5 separate regions of the Homo sapiens genome follow, and regions 2, 3, 4 and 5 are each reported to be linked to region 1. Evidence: microRNA targets listed by miRTarBase, many of them from high-throughput screens and not tested one by one. Region 1 holds a microRNA gene; each other region holds the end of a gene's coding sequence.
The links. The annotated mature microRNA hsa-miR-152-3p reads UCAGUGCAUGACAGAACUUGG and lies in region 1 at 833-853, shown strand. An mRNA with a match to its seed (bases 2 to 7 or 8) in the 3' UTR can be bound and repressed. Matches are read on the target gene's strand: a 7mer-m8 pairs with bases 2 to 8, a 7mer-A1 pairs with bases 2 to 7 and ends in A, and an 8mer does both.

Region 2: the mRNA of ASB6 is a reported target of hsa-miR-152-3p. Seed matches in the 3' UTR shown: 7mer-m8 at 1,797-1,803 and 7mer-m8 at 3,407-3,413.
Region 3: the mRNA of STRADB is a reported target of hsa-miR-152-3p. Seed matches in the 3' UTR shown: 7mer-m8 at 3,083-3,089.
Region 4: miRTarBase lists ALCAM as a target of hsa-miR-152-3p. Seed matches in the 3' UTR shown: 8mer at 3,847-3,854.
Region 5: the mRNA of MXD1 is a reported target of hsa-miR-152-3p. Seed matches in the 3' UTR shown: 8mer at 2,778-2,785, 7mer-m8 at 3,035-3,041 and 7mer-m8 at 3,221-3,227.

What each region holds. Positions count from the first base shown.
Region 1 is chr17:48,035,027-48,038,026 of GRCh38, reverse strand. MIR152 (microRNA 152) reads left to right here and starts at 780; the gene lies at 780-866. COPZ2 (coat protein complex I subunit zeta 2) reads left to right here and starts at 230. Exons shown (of 9, transcript NM_016429.4): 1 at 230-360; 2 at 1,102-1,176. The coding sequence starts at 250.
Region 2 is chr9:129,634,558-129,638,789 of GRCh38, reverse strand. ASB6 (ankyrin repeat and SOCS box containing 6) reads left to right here. Exons shown (of 6, transcript NM_017873.4): 5 at 131-217; 6 at 333-4,185. The coding sequence ends at 1,000. It overlaps NTMT1 (N-terminal Xaa-Pro-Lys N-methyltransferase 1), which reads right to left. Exons shown (of 4, transcript NM_014064.4): 4 at 2,655-3,582. The coding sequence ends at 3,326. Among named protein-coding and RNA genes, the nearest start is that of ASB6, 5.5 kb to the left of the region's middle.
Region 3 is chr2:201,479,141-201,483,372 of GRCh38, reverse strand. It overlaps STRADB (STE20 related adaptor beta), which reads right to left. Exons shown (of 12, transcript NM_018571.6): 11 at 3,842-3,884; 12 at 2,527-3,341. The coding sequence ends at 3,198. Among named protein-coding and RNA genes, the nearest start is that of STRADB, 30 kb to the right of the region's middle.
Region 4 is chr3:105,570,877-105,575,108 of GRCh38, forward strand. It overlaps ALCAM (activated leukocyte cell adhesion molecule), which reads left to right. Exons shown (of 16, transcript NM_001627.4): 15 at 976-1,088; 16 at 3,601-4,232. The coding sequence ends at 1,063. Among named protein-coding and RNA genes, the nearest start is that of ALCAM, 210 kb to the left of the region's middle.
Region 5 is chr2:69,937,426-69,941,657 of GRCh38, forward strand. It overlaps MXD1 (MAX dimerization protein 1), which reads left to right. Exons shown (of 6, transcript NM_002357.4): 6 at 672-4,232. The coding sequence ends at 859. It also overlaps a transcript of ASPRV1 not described here. Among named protein-coding and RNA genes, the nearest start is that of ASPRV1, 22 kb to the right of the region's middle. RefSeq lists an enhancer at 1-419.

The DNA.
Region 1 (3,000 bases):
CCCTGAGGATGCAGAGTTCGGGGATGTAAGGGACTCGGGAAGGAGCCAAGGAGGAGAGAGGGAGAGGAGAAGTGGGGGAAGGAGAGGTGGGGTGAGGGCGGGAGGGGAGATGGGGGAGAACGAGCAAGAGGACGGGGCCCCGAGGAAAGGGAGGCCACGCGCGAGAGGGGGCCGCGGGGCGGCGCGGAGGCGGGGCGGCGGCGGCGGGCAGGCGGCGGGCGGCGCTGTCAGTGCGAGGCGGCGAGCGGAATGCAGCGGCCCGAGGCCTGGCCACGTCCGCACCCGGGGGAGGGGGCCGCGGCGGCCCAGGCCGGGGGCCCGGCGCCGCCTGCTCGAGCCGGGGAGCCCTCGGGGCTGCGGGTACGGAGCGGGCGGGCGCGGGGATCCCGGGCGGCGGGAGCTGGGCAGGGACAGAGCAGGGTTAGGGGGAGCAGCCAACTCAGAACTCGCGCGCCCGGCGGCTGGGAACTTTGTGTCACCCCTGACTGGCCCCAGGACCCGGGAGGAAAAGTTCGTCCCAGCGCCGACCGGAGAGGAGGCCTGTCCTGAGTCCGTCGGCGCGGGGCTGAAGTTCTGGGTCCGTTTGGAGTGGGGGTGGCGGGTGAGTTGCGATTCCGCGGGGAGGGTAAGGAGTGGCCTGTCCGTCCCAGACTCGGCTCCCATCACCGGTGGGTGATGGGCATGCTTCTGGAGTCTACCCGGGCCAGGGCCTGGGGGCGCGCTGATAGCGCAGGTCCAGCCCGGCCAGGGATCAGCTGGAAGAAGGAGGCTCGGCCCGCTGTCCCCCCCGGCCCAGGTTCTGTGATACACTCCGACTCGGGCTCTGGAGCAGTCAGTGCATGACAGAACTTGGGCCCGGAAGGACCTTCTGCACCCAACGGGCACAGCGCCCACTCGGGGCCTGCAGTGGAACATCTGCCTGGGAGTGGAGTGGGCACCTGGGTTGGCCCATGTGGCACAGGGCTGGGCAGAACCAGCTGTGGACCTTGAGGACTGGGGTTGCTGGGGCCTGAGGATGTATCCTAGGGCCAGCAGATCCCATAGACACAGGGTGTCCACCTCGAGTCAGGGGCCAAACGGAACTCTCCTCTCCGGTGTCAGTTGCAGGAACCTTCCCTCTACACCATCAAGGCTGTTTTCATCCTAGATAATGACGGGCGCCGGCTGCTGGCCAAGGTAACCTCTGACCCCACCCATGAGGGACACAGTTCCCACTCAGCTGACACTCCTGTCTCAGGAGAAACTCCACTGTGATCTCTGTGACTCAGGGCAGCTCAGCTTAGACCCCTCCAGAGGTCCTTCTCATCCTCCTGCCTTGTCAAGGTGCTGCTCCCTGAAATGAGGGGTCTCCTCTATTTCTACTCATGTTCCCTGAAATGTTTCCTTATCATCCTGCTACTGGCCAGTTGGACCTGGGCATGGGAAGGTTCTGCCTAATGGGTCAGTGGAGTGTTGAGCCTGGGACCCAGGAGTCTTAGTCCCCAAACCCCCACACAAGTTCTTTTGTTCTTTGGGGTTTGTCTCTAAACCTCCACTTTTGTTCTACAGCTTGGTAAACACTAACGATTTAGTCTAAGGAGTCTAAGGATTTAGAACCAGATGGGATTTTAGAAACTGTATAATCCAACTCTTTAATTTCGTAGATGAAGAAAATGAGGGGTAGAGAAGCTAAGTGAGTTGCCTGAGGTCACAAGTATTAATATCCTAACAGATCCAAACTCAAATTTTATTTATTTACTTATTTAATTTTTTCACTTCTCCCATTTCACAGGTTTCACAGGCAAACTCGGGTTTTTTGACATGAAGCTCAAGGTGGTTTTCACTGTACCCCCATTCAATTAGCTGTTATCTATCCTAGCAAACATGGCCTGAGCGAACCAAACTAAAATAATCCAAAAATAAATTTCTGCTGTCAACACAATTAATTGTAGGGGAGCTATAGCATCTGCATTAGCTATGAAATGCATTATAAGGCCAGGTGTGATGGCTCATGCCTGTAATCCCAGCACTTTGGGAGGCCAAGGCGGGCAGATCACTTGAGGTCAGGAGTTCGAAACCAGCCTGGACAACATGGTGAAACCCTGTCTCTACTAAAAATACAAAGAATTAGCCAGGCATGGTGGTGGGCGCCTGTAATCCCAGCTACTCGAGAGGCTGAGGCAGGAGAATTGCTTGAACCTGGGAGGCAGAGGTTGCAGTGAGCCGAGATCACACCATTGCACTCCAGCCTGGGCAACAAGAGCGAAACTCTGTCTCAAAAAAAAAAAAAAAAAGAAAAGAAAAAGAAAAGAAATGTGTTGTAAGGCCAGGCGCAGTGGCTGATGCCTGTAATCCCAGTACTTTGGGAGGCCGAGGCGGGTGGACTGCTTGAGCCCAGGAGTGCCAGACCAGCCTGGGCAACATGGCACACCCCATCTCTACAAAAAACAAAACAAAACAAAAACAAAAAACAAAAAAACGAAAATTAGCCGGGCGTGGTGGTGTGTGCCTGTAGTCCCACCTACTCGGGAGGCTGAAGTGGGAGGATTGCCTGAGCCCGAGAGGTTGAGGCTGCAGTGAGCCATGATCGAGCTACTGCACTCCAATCTGGGTTATAGAGTGAGACCCCATCCCAAAAAATAGATTTTCTGTTTGTTTATTTGGAACTGAAAGTTTTTTGTTTTTATGAAATTCAAATAAGCAGCGGCCACTAGGGAGATGGCTAATCTGCCTGCGGATTGAGTATTAAGTGGCAAAATCCACATCCAGAAAATTGAAAACTGAGCTGACCACACCTTGCCCCAGCAGATGGTCAGAGGTGGATCAGCAAGGCCAAAGGCTTTTCCTCCCTACAGATTAAGAAACTGAGTCAGAGAGAGAGGCTCACCATTCCCAAACAAAAAACATTAATTTAGTTATGGGATATGTGTGAGGAATTGTTTCTTAGATATTTAATCTTCACTATAACCCTGTCTGCAGTCAGACCGTCCTTAGTGGTCAAACCCAGCTTTGGCCTCACAA
Region 2 (4,232 bases), not on the chromosome of region 1:
GAGCTGAGAGTTGTCTCTGAAAGTTCATCTTCTGATCCTCTGAGTGTCTGGATTTCTGCCACCTCCTCTGGGTTGCCCTGACCTGGGCTTCCTGGCCTCCTGCTCCTCCTTGCTCTCCCTCCCTCCCTAGGAAAAACTGCTCTGCTCCATGCTCTGGCCAGCAGCGACGGGGTGCAGATCCACAATACTGAGAACATTCGTCTCTTACTGGAAGGAGGTGAGGCTGGCGCGCTCCTAGGCCTCGTCCTCTCACCCGCCCCTTCGATGTGTGCTGTTGCTTTGCCAGGGTTGAAGGCCTTCTCCCAGCATCTCTTGTTCTATGGCTCTTCTAGGGGCAGACGTCAAGGCCACCACCAAAGATGGGGACACAGTGTTCACCTGCATCATCTTCCTGCTTGGTGAGACCGTGGGAGGGGACAAAGAGGAGGCCCAGATGATCAACCGCTTCTGCTTCCAAGTCACACGGCTGCTGCTGGCACACGGGGCCGACCCCAGCGAGTGCCCAGCCCACGAGTCCCTCACCCACATCTGCCTGAAGAGCTTTAAACTGCACTTCCCTCTCCTGCGCTTCCTCCTGGAGTCCGGAGCCGCCTACAACTGCTCCCTGCACGGTGCGTCCTGCTGGTCTGGCTTTCACATCATCTTTGAGAGGCTCTGTTCCCACCCAGGCTGCACGGAAGACGAGAGCCATGCGGACCTCCTGCGCAAAGCTGAGACTGTCCTGGATCTCATGGTGACCAACTCTCAGAAACTCCAGCTGCCCGAAAACTTCGATATCCACCCTGTGGGCAGCCTGGCGGAAAAGATCCAGGCCCTCCACTTCTCCTTGAGGCAGCTGGAGAGCTATCCCCCGCCCCTCAAGCACCTGTGCCGTGTGGCCATCCGGCTCTACCTTCAGCCGTGGCCTGTGGATGTGAAGGTCAAAGCCCTGCCTCTGCCCGACAGGCTGAAGTGGTACCTCCTTAGCGAGCACAGTGGCTCCGTGGAAGATGACATCTGATAGGTCTCAGGCTACAGGAACGGGGGACACGGGCAGCTCAGGTCAGCCTGTTGGTAGATGCTGGGACAGCATTAGAAGAGGGTCTTTTTGATCTGGGAGATGAGACGGGATCCTTCATGAGAAAAGCCAGCCAGGTAGAGCCTGAAGCTGTGATCACTCCAGTGGTGAAGGGTGCAGCTCTGGTTCTTCCAGAGAGACTGCCCCCTTCCCTCCAGCGGCACTCCAAGTCCCCCCCATGTTGGAAAGAGGAACAGGGCTTGGATTGATGTTTATACCCTCTGAATTGGAGGGCAGTGCCAGGGCATTTGCAGAAGCTGGGAAGGACCAAGCCTCAGCACCCCAGGGCTGCGGGGCTCTTGTTGGCCGCACGTGGCAGTGCAGCTGGAGAGGAAGCCTGGGGCACGTCCTGTGCGGTGCCACCAAGGCCCCACCCCTGCCCCTTTTCCTTCCAGGTTCTGTTACTCACAGAAGTGTTTCTGGTGGGCTCTGCGGGAGAAGACACTAAGGGCCCCACAGGCTTGTTTCATGGTGTTGCAAGCCAAGCTGGCCCCTGCCTGTTCCTGTAGCTCTGGGGCCAGGTCAGCCGTGGCCCCACCTACCAGAACTGTGCTCTGCTGGCAGCTGTGCTTTTGCCAAACCCAGGGCCTCAGCGACCATGACTTCTGCTAAAAAGCAATCATGAGTGCGTGGCTGGGGACAGACCTCTCTGAAGTGTCTCCTGTTGTGAGGGGCTCACTTTGGAGCCACTGAAGAGCCGACTGTGCCACCCACTTGCGAGCCTCAGTCCCTTCCAAGCTGCACTGGTCATTGGGAATTGTGTAAACACCTCTGGGGATAAGCTGAGGTGACTAAATGATATATTTATATTATAAGATTAAACTGACTTTCTTGGCCTTAACAAGGTCCTTATATAAAATTTCCACCCCGCCCCTCCATAGTTCAGGATAGAGGCTCCCACAGCAGCCGGTAAGGAAGTGGGTGGCAGGTGTGAGGGGATGCTGTGTTTGGGGGGTTGTTTCCAAGTCCCTGCAAAGAAGCACCACTCTAGACTGGCAAGGGCCTCCACAGTGTGGAGGTCCCATTTTATTATTTTTTTTTTTCGAGACACTCTGTCACCCAGGCTGGAGTGCAATGGTGCAATCTCGGCTCACTGCGACCTCTGCCTCCCAGGTTCAAGCAGTTCTCCTGCCTCAGCCTCCTGAGTAGCTGGCATTATAGGTGCCCACCACCATGCCTGGCTGATTTTTGTATTTTTAGTAGAGACGGGGTTTCGCCATGTTGGTCAGGCTGGTCTCAAACTCCTGACCTCAGGTGATTCGCCTGCCTCGGCCTTTCAAAGTGCTGGGATTACAGACATGAGCCACTGTGCCCGGCCCCCATTTTATTTTAGTTTTATTTTGAGACAGAGTCTCGCTCTGTCACCTAGGCTGGAGTGCAGTGGCGCAATCTCACCTCACTGCAAGCTCTGCCTCCCGGGCTCACCCCATTCTCCTGCCTCAGCCTCCTGAGTAGCTGGGACTACAGGCGCCCGCCATCACGCCTGGCTAATTTTTTTTTTTTTTGTATTTTAAGTAGAGACGGGGTTTCACCTGTTAGCCAGGATGGTCTCAATCTCCTGACCTCGTGATCTGCCCGCCTCGGCCTCCCAAAGTGCTGGGATTACAGGCGTGAGCCACCGCGCCCAGCCCCATTTTATTTTTTACTTTAAATGCCTGCCAAGGAGCAGCCTCAAGCCCAGAGAAGACTGAGGCTACGGGGAACTTCCCTTGCTGCAGGCTGTTGTAACACTTTAAGGGCCCCAGGTCTCCACTGCCAAGCAGGACTTGGCACATGAGCACCCACCCCACAGCACCATCAGGCAGCACCCATGGGCTCCACCAGCCCAGCTCTGTCCCTCCCCTAGGTAAAGATCACACTGAAGTCTTCAAGTCCCCAGCAACCAAGTTGGGGGTGGTTTCCTTCCTCTTCAGGCAGCCAGGCCCATGGCTGGAAGGCCGGGCTGGAGGCCCAGGGAATCGGTTACTGATGTGGCCACCCTATTCCCACATGGGGAGCACCAGGAGCCCTGGAGCCCCTTCCACCCAATCCCATCTCGCAGGAGAGCAGGGTCTGGGCTCCTGCCTCACCGCTGGTTCAGCAGCACCCTCCCCGCCGGGTCCCACCTTGCCTTTTGAAGAAGAGCCCGCATAATGAGTGGACGGCAGACAGCTATATTTAGTGGTGCCTCGACACTCACGAACCGCCAGCGTGGCGCCTGGATCTTGCCCAGCTGCCAGCTCCCCCCACCAGGACTGTGGTTCCTCAGTTTCTCCTGCCAGCCCCGGCTCATCTCAGGGCAAAGCTATAGACATGGTAGATCTCATCGGGGAGGTTCTCCTGCCTCTCCTCGGCCAGGAGGCTGAGGCCTGCACTGCAGATGATCCTGCGGACCACGTCAAGGTCCCGGCACACGCTGCTGTCCACGTCGTCCAGAATCACGCCCTCCTGGGCCATGTTGTCTTTGATGACGATGATGCCGTTGGGGCGGAGGCTGCCCTTGCAGCGCCGCAGGAACTCGGCCAGGTGCTGATCGGTGAGGTGGCCTGGGGAGGGCAGAGGCAAGGTTACCAGGGCACCATGCAAGCGGATGTCGGCACTGGATGGGATGTACTTCTCAGCCCCGCTGAGCCCCTCATTTGTGCCCAGCATTTTGTGTGCACACATGGCCTCATTGGCTCTCAGTCCCGAGAGATTTACTAAACCCCAATTCATAGAATAGGAAACTGTGGCTCAGAGGTCATCTACCTAAAGACACATTAAGCCAGAATTTGACTTGACGGGATGGCTTACAAGTCCTGCCTGATACCTACACACCATGATGCCCCACCCCTGCCAGGCTTGGATCGGAGGAGTGAACCTGGGCTAAGAGTTTGGCATTGCAGGAGCTCCCAGAGAGACTGCCTTCCCTACACTAGAAGTCCCCACAAAGGCTTCTGAGACCACAAAATACAAGGCCAGACCTAGAGTGTCCACAGCAGGCCTGTGCTGCCCGCCTCAGGAGGTGGCCGACTGCTGCTAGCGGCCTGCCGCCACGTCAGCAGCCCAGGGCACAGCGCTCGAGGTGTGCTGTTAGGCTAAGAGGGTGCAGGGCTAGACACGAAGCTTAAACTATTCATCTTATTAAAAATAAAACCCTTATAAAACTCCTCACTTTGAATGCAGTAAGTTATTGGCCATTAAAATTTTTTCAACA
Region 3 (4,232 bases), not on the chromosome of region 1:
TGAGGCACAAAATTTAAGAAAGCACTCACAGGGTGAAGTCATCACTCATGGTGATACCCATGGTGATGGTTGATTTTGTGTGTCAACTGTACTGGGCCACAGGTGCCCAGATACTTGGTCAAACATTATTCTGAATGCCTGTAGTCCCAGCACTTTGGGAGTCCGAGGTCAGGAGTTCTAGACCAGCCTGGCCAACATGGTGAAACCCCATCTCTACTAAAAATGCAAAAATTAGCTGGGCATGGTGATGGGAGCCTGTAATCCCAGCTACTTGGGAGGCTGAGGCAGGAGAATCACTTGAACCCGGGAGGCAGAGGTTACAGTGAGCTGAGATCATGCCACTGCACTCCAGCCTGGGCGACGGAGCAAGACTCCATCTCAAACAAACAAAAAATAACATTATTCTGAGTGTCTCTGTGAGGATGTGTATTAGGGTTCTCCAGAGGGACAGAACTAATGAATATATGAAATGGAGTTTACTAGGGAGAATTGGCTCACACTATCACAAGGTGAAGTCCTGCAGTAGGCCATCTGCTAGCTGAGGAAGAAAGAAGCCAGCAGTTGCTCCATCCAATTCCAAAAGCCTCAAAAGCAGCAAAGCCAACAGTGCAACCCTCGGTCTGTGGCTGAAGGCACAAAAGTCCCCAGGAGGCCCTTGTGCAACTCCCAGAGTCCGAAGGCCAAAGAACCTAGAGTCTGATGTCCAAGGGCAGGAGGAGTGGAAGGAAGCATCCAGCATGGAAGAAAGATGAAATCCACAAGGCTCAGCAAGCAAGGTTATCCCTCTTCTGGCCGCCATCTAGCCGTTTGGCAGCTGACTGCATGGTGCCCACCTACATTGAGGGTGGGTCTTCCTCTCCCAGTCCACTGACTCAAACGTCAATCTCCTCTGGCAACACCCTCATAGACACACCCAGAAACAATACTTTACCACAGGAGTCCCCAAACCCCGCTGTGGACCCATACGGGTCAGTGGCCTGTTGGGAACCCAGCGTCACAGCAGATGAGCAGCAGGGTGGGTGAGCATTACCGCCTGAGTTCTGCCTCCTGTCAGATCAGCGGCCACATTAAATTCTCATAGGAGCACCAACCCTATTGTGAACTCACACACAAGTGATCTAGGTCGTGCTGCTCCTTATGAGAATCTAATGCCTGATCTGAGATGGAACAGTTTCATCCTGAAACCATCCCCCACCCCATGGTAAAACTGTATACCACAAAACTGGTGCCAAAAAGGTTGGGACCACTGTGTTATCAGCTATCTAGACATCCTTCAATCCAATCAAGTTGACACTTAATATTAACCATCACACGGTGTTTCTGGATCAGACTAACATTTAAATCGGTCGACTAAGTGAAGCAGATTGCACTCTCTAATATGAGTGGACCTCATCCAATCAATTGAAGGCCTGAATAGAAGAGGAAGGCTAAACTTCCCCCAAGTAAAAGAGAATTCCTCCTGCCTGAATGCATTTGAACTGGGACATTGGCTTTTTACTGCCTTTGGACTCAAACTGAAACACTGACTCTTCCTGGGTCTTGAGTCTGACAACCTTTGGATGAGAACTACACTATCAGCTCTTCTGGATGTCCAGCTTGCTAACTCACCTGGCAGATCTTTGGACTTGTCAGCCTCCACAATCGCATGAACCAATTCCTTATAATAAATCAGTTTATGTATGTATGTATATAAAATATAGATATATTATATACACACATCGATTCTGTTGGCTATTTCTCTGGAGTACCCTAACACACCCCATAGTAGAAGATCTGAGAAGCACCATTTCGGGCCCTCTATGGTCCAATTTTTAAACTACACACATTCAGGAGAACCTCCACACAGATTTGAAAGACCTCTAAGGTCTCTGTGGGCCTCTCTTACGGAAGGGAAATTTAGAAGGGGGAGGTTAGTAGGATGAACTATAGCCCTTACCACTAGAGTTGCTCTTAGGGCCTCAGCGGTCTTCATCTTCTCCCTTTTCCACTGTCCATTTTAAATTCTTTCACTTTGGTGGGTCTTGGTGGCTTAACGGATGGAGTAACCCAAACCTTCATTCTTGAGGGGGTCCAGTCAATAAACATGAAGATAATTGTGCTTGAAATCGCCTATGGATTTGTATATTATTTGTCTTTTTAATTTTTTAGTCCTGAGGTAATCATTTTAAAATAACTTTTAATGTAATATAAATAAGATTGTATAAATTAAGAAAATCAACTGAAGTAGGTCCCAGTTTACCACACCTCCAAACTATGTATTCTTTTTGAGACATGGCAGAGTCTCTTTTCTAATTAGGAAATATTAATTAATTAAGACCTCTATGCCCTCATATGTTGTATCTCCTACAGGAGCAATAACCATACAAAAGGCCAGAATGCCTTCTGCCTCCATTTAATCAAATACTCAGTTGATTATAGATTATGTAAATAAATCTGCTTGAGAAAGGGCTTTTCTTGGCAAAACAAATCAGAATCTGTATATTAGCTCTGTCAGACTATGCAAGGAAAATAAATAAAAGCATAAACTCAATTCAGTAAATCTTTATTGAGCTCCCACGGGGTGCGTGAATTTAGGATCTATAATTTACATAAGTAGGAAAGTGTTACTTTAGCCCCCTTGTTTAAAAAAAAGCAAATTACAATTTCTGTATATATTTCAAGTGAATCATTTAATGTGAGTGAGGCTCAGTTAGGTGTTACCATAAGTATTAACAGAAGAAAAAGGGAAAGCACAAACATTTTCCCTCTACCAGAAAAGGGTCTGATGTAAGATAAACTAGCCTGTTGGTTTAACAATAGCTCATTAAAAAGGCCAGAGAATCTGGGAGAAGATGTACTTGGAAGCACTGTCCTCTGAGGGCCCATTCCCAAGGGACAGCAAAATACTGAAAAAAATTAACTGGCTCAAAAATTATATTGAGAGATAAAAAGAGTTAGTCACAGCTTAGAAAAAAATTCCAGAATAAATGACACTAGCTAGATTAGTAATTCTGATGTTTCCTTGTCATAGTACTCTGTGCGAAACAGAGGGACTACAAACTGGTGCCCCTTTGAACAGAGTGGTTTTAAATAATAGATTCTCCAGTGCACCAACTGTATTTTCAAGTATAATTCTGGTATTTGTACCTAGAAATACAGAAGAAAAAGCAGCAAGGAGAAAGTGTCAAGTATATAGGACATAAAATGATTTGGCAGCCCTAGAATTCCCAGTATGAGTCTTTTTCATCAGGAAAATCACATTCTGGCTCAGTCCAAGGTAACACTGGAGGCAATGATATTGATGGCTTGTTATAAGCAGGAGGCAACAGTGAAAGTATTGAATCCTGGCTTTCTTCTTTCATCTGTTAAAGAAACTCAAAATAAGGCTGTTGATATATCATTTCAATATATCAGTTTTGTTAGCAATAAATAACTTTTAAAGAATTTATGTTAAATGTGTTTAAAATTGTTTTCAGGTATTTCCCCTAAAACTGCCTTTGATTCTGGTCATCTGAAAACAGGAAGAAGAGCCAAAGAAACTGACTTCTTATCAGAGTTACTTTGCCCTTTCATCATTTCTAGCCAACATAGAAAATGTCTCTAAATTAATCAAAATATACACCAAGCATCAGTAATGTGATGATAGTCCATTTTATTTTTACTCATTCTGTTTTGAAGAATGAAAGTATTTTAGAAAGTCTATAATTGAACTACCAAAAGTTTTCTTGTTTTTAACTTTATTTTGTAACAAAGTTATTAGTAAGAACCTTGGTAACCAAAATATCTCATCAAGCCAACAAAATAAAGTGACTTTTTAATAGTAATTAAAAACATCGAGACAACGGATGATAGATCAGCTCACCTGTTTGAAGAAAACATGGGACAATAAACTGCTTGCTGATGGCCTGAAATTTTTAAGAAAGTTATAAAAAAAAAACCTTTATATTAGAATGTAGATTTCAGGTGTAAAAATATGTTAGAAATTAGGTTTAGTGCTATAAAACCCAATACGAAAAAGATTAAAAAGAATGTATGTCAGAAGCCCAATTCTTAGCTACAACCTTGACTAAAGGAAATAATTGTAGAGGTATCCTTCAATTAATCCATACTCAACATTTACTGCACACAGTATTTACTGACAGTAACTTAGTAGGGTAGCAGCAATTTACATTTTATACTACTTAGAGTCTTAACGTAAATGTGCTAATTAATGTCTAGAAAGAGTAACTGATTTTTACTCTCATTTTTATTGT
Region 4 (4,232 bases), not on the chromosome of region 1:
AAGTAGACTGCAAGGTCATATAATGGTCTGCAATTGTCTCTTATTCTGGATGCTGGGAGGAAAGGAAGGAAGGGAGGGAGGGAAGGTGGAAGGGGTGCACTCTTGGACATACAGCTACCATTTGTTCTGCTTTCTCCTAGTTAGCCACAAACCCTTAATTGTGTAATTAAGAAAATCTGATTTAATGTCTTAAAGAATAAGAGCCTAGGCATGGGTAATCAAAGTAGCCGCTAAGGCATTGGTTTTCAAACTGTGGCAGGCAGTGGAATCACCTGAGGAGTTGTTTAGCAGAGATCGCAGGTCCCATCCCCACAGTTTCTGTTTCTGTTTCTGTAGTTCTGGTATAGGGCCCGAGAATTTGCATTTCTTGCAAGTTCACAGGGGATGCTGATACTGCTGGTCTGGGGACCATAATTTGAGAACCAGCCACGTTAAAGTTGCTATAGCTTCTGTTGTCGATGTTCTATCATAAACTTGGTCTCAATAATCTGGTTGTTGTTGTATTCAGTAAAACAGAATATTCATAAAGATAGACATAGGGTGTTAGCTCAACTGGGATACATGATAGGGAACACCAGAAGGGAACGCGCCTTCATGAAATGTCCTTAAGAAAATTTTTTTGGAGAAAATTCGCTTAGAACAAAAATTTACACTATCAAATGAGTTACTTCCCAGAAAGTGGAGAGAAAAATAACCTAGCTAAAAACATGATGCACAAAGTGTTGTATAGTCTGTTTTCAAAATAATTGATTTTTTTTTCTCTTAGCATACATTTACTGGAACCCCATCACCAAGCTAATTTCAGTACAATGTGCTCCATTATCAGTCAAGGCTCACAGATATGGAAATTTTTGCCTAGCGGTTTGCTGTAAAACATTTGCTTTTCAAAGACACATTAATTCAAATCTTAAAATTAAATATAAAAGTTGAACATGTATGTGTCAATATGATGAAGTTTATTTAATTCTCTTACAGGACTGCATCAAAACATGTAAACAAGGACCTCGGTAATATGGAAGAAAACAAAAAGTTAGAAGAAAACAATCACAAAACTGAAGCCTAAGAGAGAAACTGTCCTAGTTGTCCAGGTGAGTAGTCTGTACGAGGTTCATAGAAATAATTCCCTAGCAAGTAGGAAACATCCTTAAAGATGAAGTCCTTTATGTTAAGATGCTCCATAATTACAGCTTTCAAAACAGGAAGAGAGGGGTTTTTTTTCTTTTTATTATGCTTTAAGTTCTCAGATACATGTGCAGAACGTGAAGGTATGTTACGCTGGTATAAACGTGCCATGGTAGTTTGCACGCATCAACCCATCATCTACATTAGGTATTTCTCCTAATGCGTCCCTCCCCTAGCCCCCCACCCCCTGACAGGCCCCATTGTGTGGTGGTCCCTTCCCTATGTCCATGTGTTCTCACTGCTCAACTCCCACTTATGAGTGAAAACATGCAATGTTGAGTTTTCTGTTCTTGCGTTAGTTTGCTGAGAATGATGGTTTCCAGCTTCATCCATGTCCTTACAAAGGACATGAACTCGTCCTTTTTTATGGCTGAATAGTATTCCATGGTGTATGTGTGCCACATTTTCTTAATCCAGTCGATCACTGATGGGCCTTTGGGTTGGTTCCAAGTCTTTGCTATTGTGAACAGTGCTGCAATAAACATACATGTGGATGTGTGTTTATAGTAGAATGATTTATAATTCTTTGGCTATATACGCAGTAATGGGATTGCTGGGTCAAATGGTATTTCCGGTTCTATATCCTTCAGGAATCACCACACTGCCTTCCACAATGGTTGAACTAATTTACACTCCCACCAACAGTGTAAAAGCGTTCCTATTTTTCCACATTCTCTCAAAACAGGAAGAGAGTTTTTCGAAAGGAAACTTTCGTGACTCAGAAAGTGTTTTCGGAAGAATGGAAACTTACCAGTTTCCCCCACTCCCTCCTCAAAATAATCATTATCTTCTGAATAATAAAAACCAACTATGAGATGTTAACATTCAACTATCATTTTATATTTTAATGCAAAAACTTTAAGTGCAAAGAAGCTTTATTTTTTGAATTGGTGTTTGGGTTCAGTAAGAACAGATTCTAATACCTTAGATTTGTTTTAAATAAATGATTATGAAAATAATTTTAAAATATGAAAATTTTAGGCCAGGTATAGGCAATGGCTCACGCCTGTAATCCCAGCACTTTGGGAGGCTGAGGCGGGTGGATCACTGGAGACTAGAAGCTCCAGACCAGCCTGGCCAATGTGGTGAAACCCTGCGTCTCTACTAAAAATACAAAAATTAGCCAGTCCTGGTGGCAAGCACCGATAATCCCAGCTACTCCAGTGGCTGAGGCAGGGGAATCACTTGAACCCAAGAGGTGGGGGTTGCAGTGAGCCAAGATGGTGCCACTGCACTCCAATCTGGGTGACAGAATGAGATTCTGTCTCAAAATATAAAAATAAAAAAATAAAAAACTTTAATCTAGATATTTAATAAAAGCGTGAGTGTATTTATACAGCCAATATCCCAAATCATTTTAATGAAAAGCATAACAAACTTGTGCACGTGTGTATACATATACGCATATGCTTTTATAGGTAGTATATGTATGTGTATGTGTATATATGTATCCATGTATCTATATGCACATATGTAGAGGCATATGACTGTTATATTTAACATATAAAATAGCTGTGTGTGATTTTTAAGACAATCTCAAAAGAGGTATGTTTCCATGGCATTGCCACCTGCAATTTGAGGTTTTTCTTTTTATTTGTGTTCCCTTAAACCAAGCAAATAGAAGAGCCATTTGGACTATTAATGTGTCCTTTAGAATAACTGTTACTATAGCTTACCGATATGATATGACAAGCCCCAACCGCCACAGTAAACCTCGGGTTCATTATAAATAAACCACAAGTCACAATTTGAGTGGGTCATCCAAGTTAATCCCATAGTAAGGATGGAGCGTGAGAAAATACTGAATTTAAAAGGATGCACACAGGGGAGAACAATAGAATAATTGAAACAAGACTTGGTTTTTAAAATCTGAAAGCCAGGATTTTAAACTGATGGGGTGAAAGGAATCAGAACTGGATTGCTTCTCTATCTCACCTTTCATTGGAGGTCAAGTATGCAGCATTCCCACATGACTTTTTTTGTTTGTTTTTTCCACTTCTCTAGGGTTCTTTTCCCCAGTCCTTTGTAAACATAGATTTTAACTACTGTTTTCTTCAAAATCGTATAACTTCTCAATGAAAAACTGTACTTGAAGACAAATCCCACGAAATAGTGTGATTTGAAGAAATGAGTGTACTTTTAACCTAAAGAGAAATGCAATGAAATATTTTCTTGAAAAAAAACTTGTAATATTAGTATTAATTTTACAAAAAAAGAAAACTCTGAATAATTCCAAAAACTATTTGTAGAATGGATGAAGCAATGCCTGAGATTATAGATGGGCTTGGGGACAATGGAGTTTTATAAAAGGCCCTCCTGTAAAGTAATTTACTAAATTACTTTTAGTACAAAGTATCTGTTGATGTTAAAAAATTATTGCTTTGGAAGCTTATCTAAATTATTTTTTTTTCATTTCAGAGATAAAAATCATATAGACCAATTGAAGCATGAACGTGGATTGTATTTAAGACATAAACAAAGACATTGACAGCAATTCATGGTTCAAGTATTAAGCAGTTCATTCTACCAAGCTGTCACAGGTTTTCAGAGAATTATCTCAAGTAAAACAAATGAAATTTAATTACAAACAATAAGAACAAGTTTTGGCAGCCATGATAATAGGTCATATGTTGTGTTTGGTTCAATTTTTTTTCCGTAAATGTCTGCACTGAGGATTTCTTTTTGGTTTGCCTTTTATGTAAATTTTTTACGTAGCTATTTTTATACACTGTAAGCTTTGTTCTGGGAGTTGCTGTTAATCTGATGTATAATGTAATGTTTTTATTTCAATTGTTTATATGGATAATCTGAGCAGGTACATTTCTGATTCTGATTGCTATCAGCAATGCCCCAAACTTTCTCATAAGCACCTAAAACCCAAAGGTGGCAGCTTGTGAAGATTGGGGACACTCATATTGCCCTAATTAAAAACTGTGATTTTTATCACAAGGGAGGGGAGGCCGAGAGTCAGACTGATAGACACCATAGGAGCCGACTCTTTGATATGCCACCAGCGAACTCTCAGAAATAAATCACAGATGCATATAGAC
Region 5 (4,232 bases), not on the chromosome of region 1:
CTTGTGCTCCCCAACCCCAGAGCAGGGGTTCAGTACTGCGGACAGGAGGCAGAGTGTAAGAAGAACTAAGACACTGGGTATGATGTAGAGAAGTCGAACAGTGTGACCTCCAGTGACAGGTTCCTTCTCCCTGCTAACACTTAGGTGACAACCCCAGAAGAGTTTGATTGGTGTCAGTTTTCAGCCTAGTTTGTTTTGTTTTGTTTTGAGACGGAATCTTGCTCTGTCACCCAGGCTGGAGTGCAGTGGTGTGATCTTGGCTCACTGCAACCTCCGCCTCCCGGGTTCAAGCGATTCCCCTGCCTAAGCCTCCCAAGCAGCTGGGATTACAGGCACACACCACAATGCCTGGCAAATTTTCCTATTTTTGTAGAGATGAGGTTTCACCATATTGGCCAGGCTGGTCTCGAACTCCTGACCTCAAGTAATTCACCCACCTTGGCCTCCCAAAGTGCTGGGATTACAGGCGTGAGCCACCACACCCAGCCAAATTTTTGTATTAGTAGAAACAGGGTTTCACTGTGTTGGCCCAGCTGGTCTCAAACTCCTAACCTCAAGTGATCCACCCGCCTTTGCCTCCCAAAGTGCTGGGATTACAAGCATGAGCCACCACGCCTGAGCTTTCTGCAGAGCGCTTTCATCAATGTCCTTCTCTCTTGTCCTCCCTGCAGAAGAAATCGACGTTGACGTGGAGAGCACGGACTATCTCACAGGTGATCTGGACTGGAGCAGCAGCAGTGTGAGCGACTCTGACGAGCGGGGCAGCATGCAGAGCCTCGGCAGTGATGAGGGCTATTCCAGCACCAGCATCAAGAGAATAAAGCTGCAGGACAGTCACAAGGCGTGTCTTGGTCTCTAAGAGAGTGGGCACTGCGGCTGTCTCCTTGAAGGTTCTCCCTGTTGGTTCTGATTAGGTAACGTATTGGACCTGCCCACAACTCCCTTGCACGTAAACTTCAGTGTCCCACCTTGACCAAAATCAGCTTTGTAACTGTTTTCAAGGAGGTGCTTAGGATTGTGGGTTTCTGATTGCATCCACTAGCTTCTCTTTTTCTCGCCATAAAAATTTGTCTCTGAGAGACTATACATTCCAATCAATTTGAAGCATCCAAGAATTCTTAGACCGAATAAGCAATGTCCACATCTCAGCAATCCCCCTCTTTGCTCTCCTCGTGTCCTCTCCCAGACCTTTCTTCCAGTTTTCTGGCTTACTGTGTTACTTGCCTAGGAGGAATGTCCAAGTGTGTCTTGTACTTAGGAAACTGAAGGAAACAAACTTTTGAAATTGAGATCCTGATCTCAGAACTCCAAAGTAAGCTTTGAAAGCAGCATTTAAGAGCACTTAACCATGGACCTCACCACCAGTGAGGAAGTCAGGAATACCTCTAGAAAACACGCCCTTCACACCGCGCATGCTCATTCCCCCGACGCGCCGCGTGTGGATGGGAGCAGTATTTCTCACTTTAAAATGGACACCTTGATAGTGTGTCTCTGGGGTTGCACAGCTCATCAAAGTTCCAAATTGTTTGTTCTCACAAACAAAACGGTACAATCTATTTTTGTGCGATGTTCTTGGGACCTCGCTGTGTTCTGCTATCTCGAGGCACATTCTCCCCTCCAACTTTGTTAATGCTACTTGTCTCTGGAACATTTTTTTTTCCTACCTCAGAGATAAATGAGATCTCCATTTCCCACTTAACACAGTGATTATCCTTTTTTCCCCCCCCAAAATAGTGACATTTGGTCCAATTATAATCTATTTTCCTATTGAACTTTCAGCAATAACTGAGCTGTGGCACTAGCAGAGCTAGTAGCCATTATCAGTGAAAGAAAAAGTCCACATTTCTACTCTCTGTTGCAGGTGAACAGGAGAGGATGGTACACTGTTACTAGAACTCCTCTCCTTATTGATTATTTTTGGACACACCCAGAAACTTCTTTATGGAGGCTTTTGGGTTGATAGTTTAAAAGGCTGATTTTTCTTTTTGGTTATGATTTCTCCCTTAAGTGGTCTCCGACTTTGTAGCATTTTTATTTAAGCTAAAACAGAGCACATGTATATGTACATAAGACACATTAAATCTATAAATACTATTTATTCATTTTATATAAACTAATGTAATGGAAAACAAATTCTTATGACTTTGTGGTTTTATAGATGTTCTAGAAACTTTGTATGTAGGTATCTACAAAATTAGTTCATTCCCCTGAATATTTTTGCATTCATATTTTTGAGGTCTTGATGTTTTCAGCCTCTGGCGAATCTTTTTCATTGAATTTGAACCATTTGTAAAATCTGTGATGCTGAAGCAGAGTGTGTCACAAAGTGATGAGAACATTACTAAAATCCACGGACGCACTGCGACCTAAGGGCTCAACGGCTGACTCGGCAGCGGGCAGCCACCCCACGCTCCCCTGCGGTCACTCGCACACCACAGCCTGAAGCTCCCCCAGCGCCTGCACCTCGCACACAGCTAAGGTCAAAGTTCAAACGCACTCCACACGGAAGCTCATTCTATACCCGAAGAGCAGTCTCAGAAAGCAAGATTACTTTTGTGTTTTTTAAAAAATGATTCTTTAATGTATTTTTCTAAACATTCTGATTGGAAGTAGTGGATTCCTAAATGATTCCAAAGTCACCTGTAATTCTTCTGTTTTTGTTTTGTTCTGTCTTTTCTTCATTTTGGCTTTGGGTGGGGGGAGGGGCAGGTGACACAAAGGATTTTTTTTTTTTTTTTTTAATTTTTGGAATCTTTTCCAATAACCAGCTAAAGATTTGCACTGAAATACAACTTGTATGCCTTTTGCATTTTTAAAGCCTGCTTCCTGGATTTAAGCAGAGTGATAGTGTTCAAAGAGCCAGTTCAGCCTGTAACATATTTGAAAAAGATATGTCTGCACTTTGAGGTCCCTTTTGAATGCCATTCACTAGACCTCTCAAGCATTTTGTTTCATTGCTACATCCAAGCGCCTCACAAGTCCACAATGCGGGACAGCATCAAAAGCTCAAGACTTTGGAAAAAGCTTGTGGGCTTGCACTGGGGGAGGGAAGGGAACAAAATTTGTGTACTTCTTTGTTTAATTTAGAAATAAGGCATCCAAGAGATGCCATTATTTTCTGTGTTTCAATTGTTGTGCCTTTGAGTTAAACTGCATTTTTGTCTTTTGGTTGAAATCTGAAATGTACTGTCCCAATATAAAACAGTAATTATTTGACCTTTGCACTGTTTGTCTGGTCCTTTTCAGTTTGATTGCATATAAATGTGGAACTTGATAGATCTCTATATTTTTAATGCACTTGTGATAAACTGGCAGCAGGGTTAGACATTACTTTCAAAGCTTGAGGTAGACCGAGTCAGCATGCTAGACAGGCTTCTCTCTCTAACCAAAACTGTAATCTTCAGGACCAGCAAACTCAGCCCAAGGCAGCTAATCCCCCCAACCCCATCCTCCGCGCCCCGTGCGGCTGATCGGCAGCCCTGATTCGCCAATTTGTCCTCTCTCATTCACTGATCCACCAGCCTGACTGCTAAGAGCTATAGTCTTTTTAGTTGTTTTGTCTTTTTAAGCAAGATGAAAACCTTTCTATTAGGGATTTTGGGGTTGGGAGGGGATGGGCAGAGATATAAACCCCAGCCTTTAAGACTTTGACAATTGTACGTAAATACAGATGTGTATAAATATAGGCACATGCATATTTTTATGTGAAAGTTGATTTTAAAAAACTAAAAAAATCTAAACTGCACTCTTATTGATACCATCATAACGCAAGTGGGAAAAATAAGAGTACGCAGTCTAATTTAATTTCATGCAGTGGGAAAATATATATGTGTGCTTCTGTAACATCCTGAAAACATAGCTTTCCATCCCCTGTTGGCTTTGAATGGTGGGCCGAGCACCCAGGTCGTCTGTATTTTGGTTTTCTTTTGCTAAGCAGAGATCTTGAATTCTTCAAGGTGCTGATAGCAACTGCTGGCTCCTTTCTGTAGTCACACACCTAATGCTAGTTTAGTGATTCAAAATGCATCACATTTTTAGGCAGGACCTAGATTTTCCCTGTCAACCTAAGATGAAAATAATTTCAGTGTTGATTCAGAACTGAACATTAAGTAGGCCCTCGTCCTGCAGTTGGCCACTTGAGTGTTTTGTTTTGTTTTTATTTTTTAAGGTGGGCATTTTCCTTTAACCTCTACTTTTTCAAAAGCAACAAAGGGGCCTCAACCTGAGTTTCC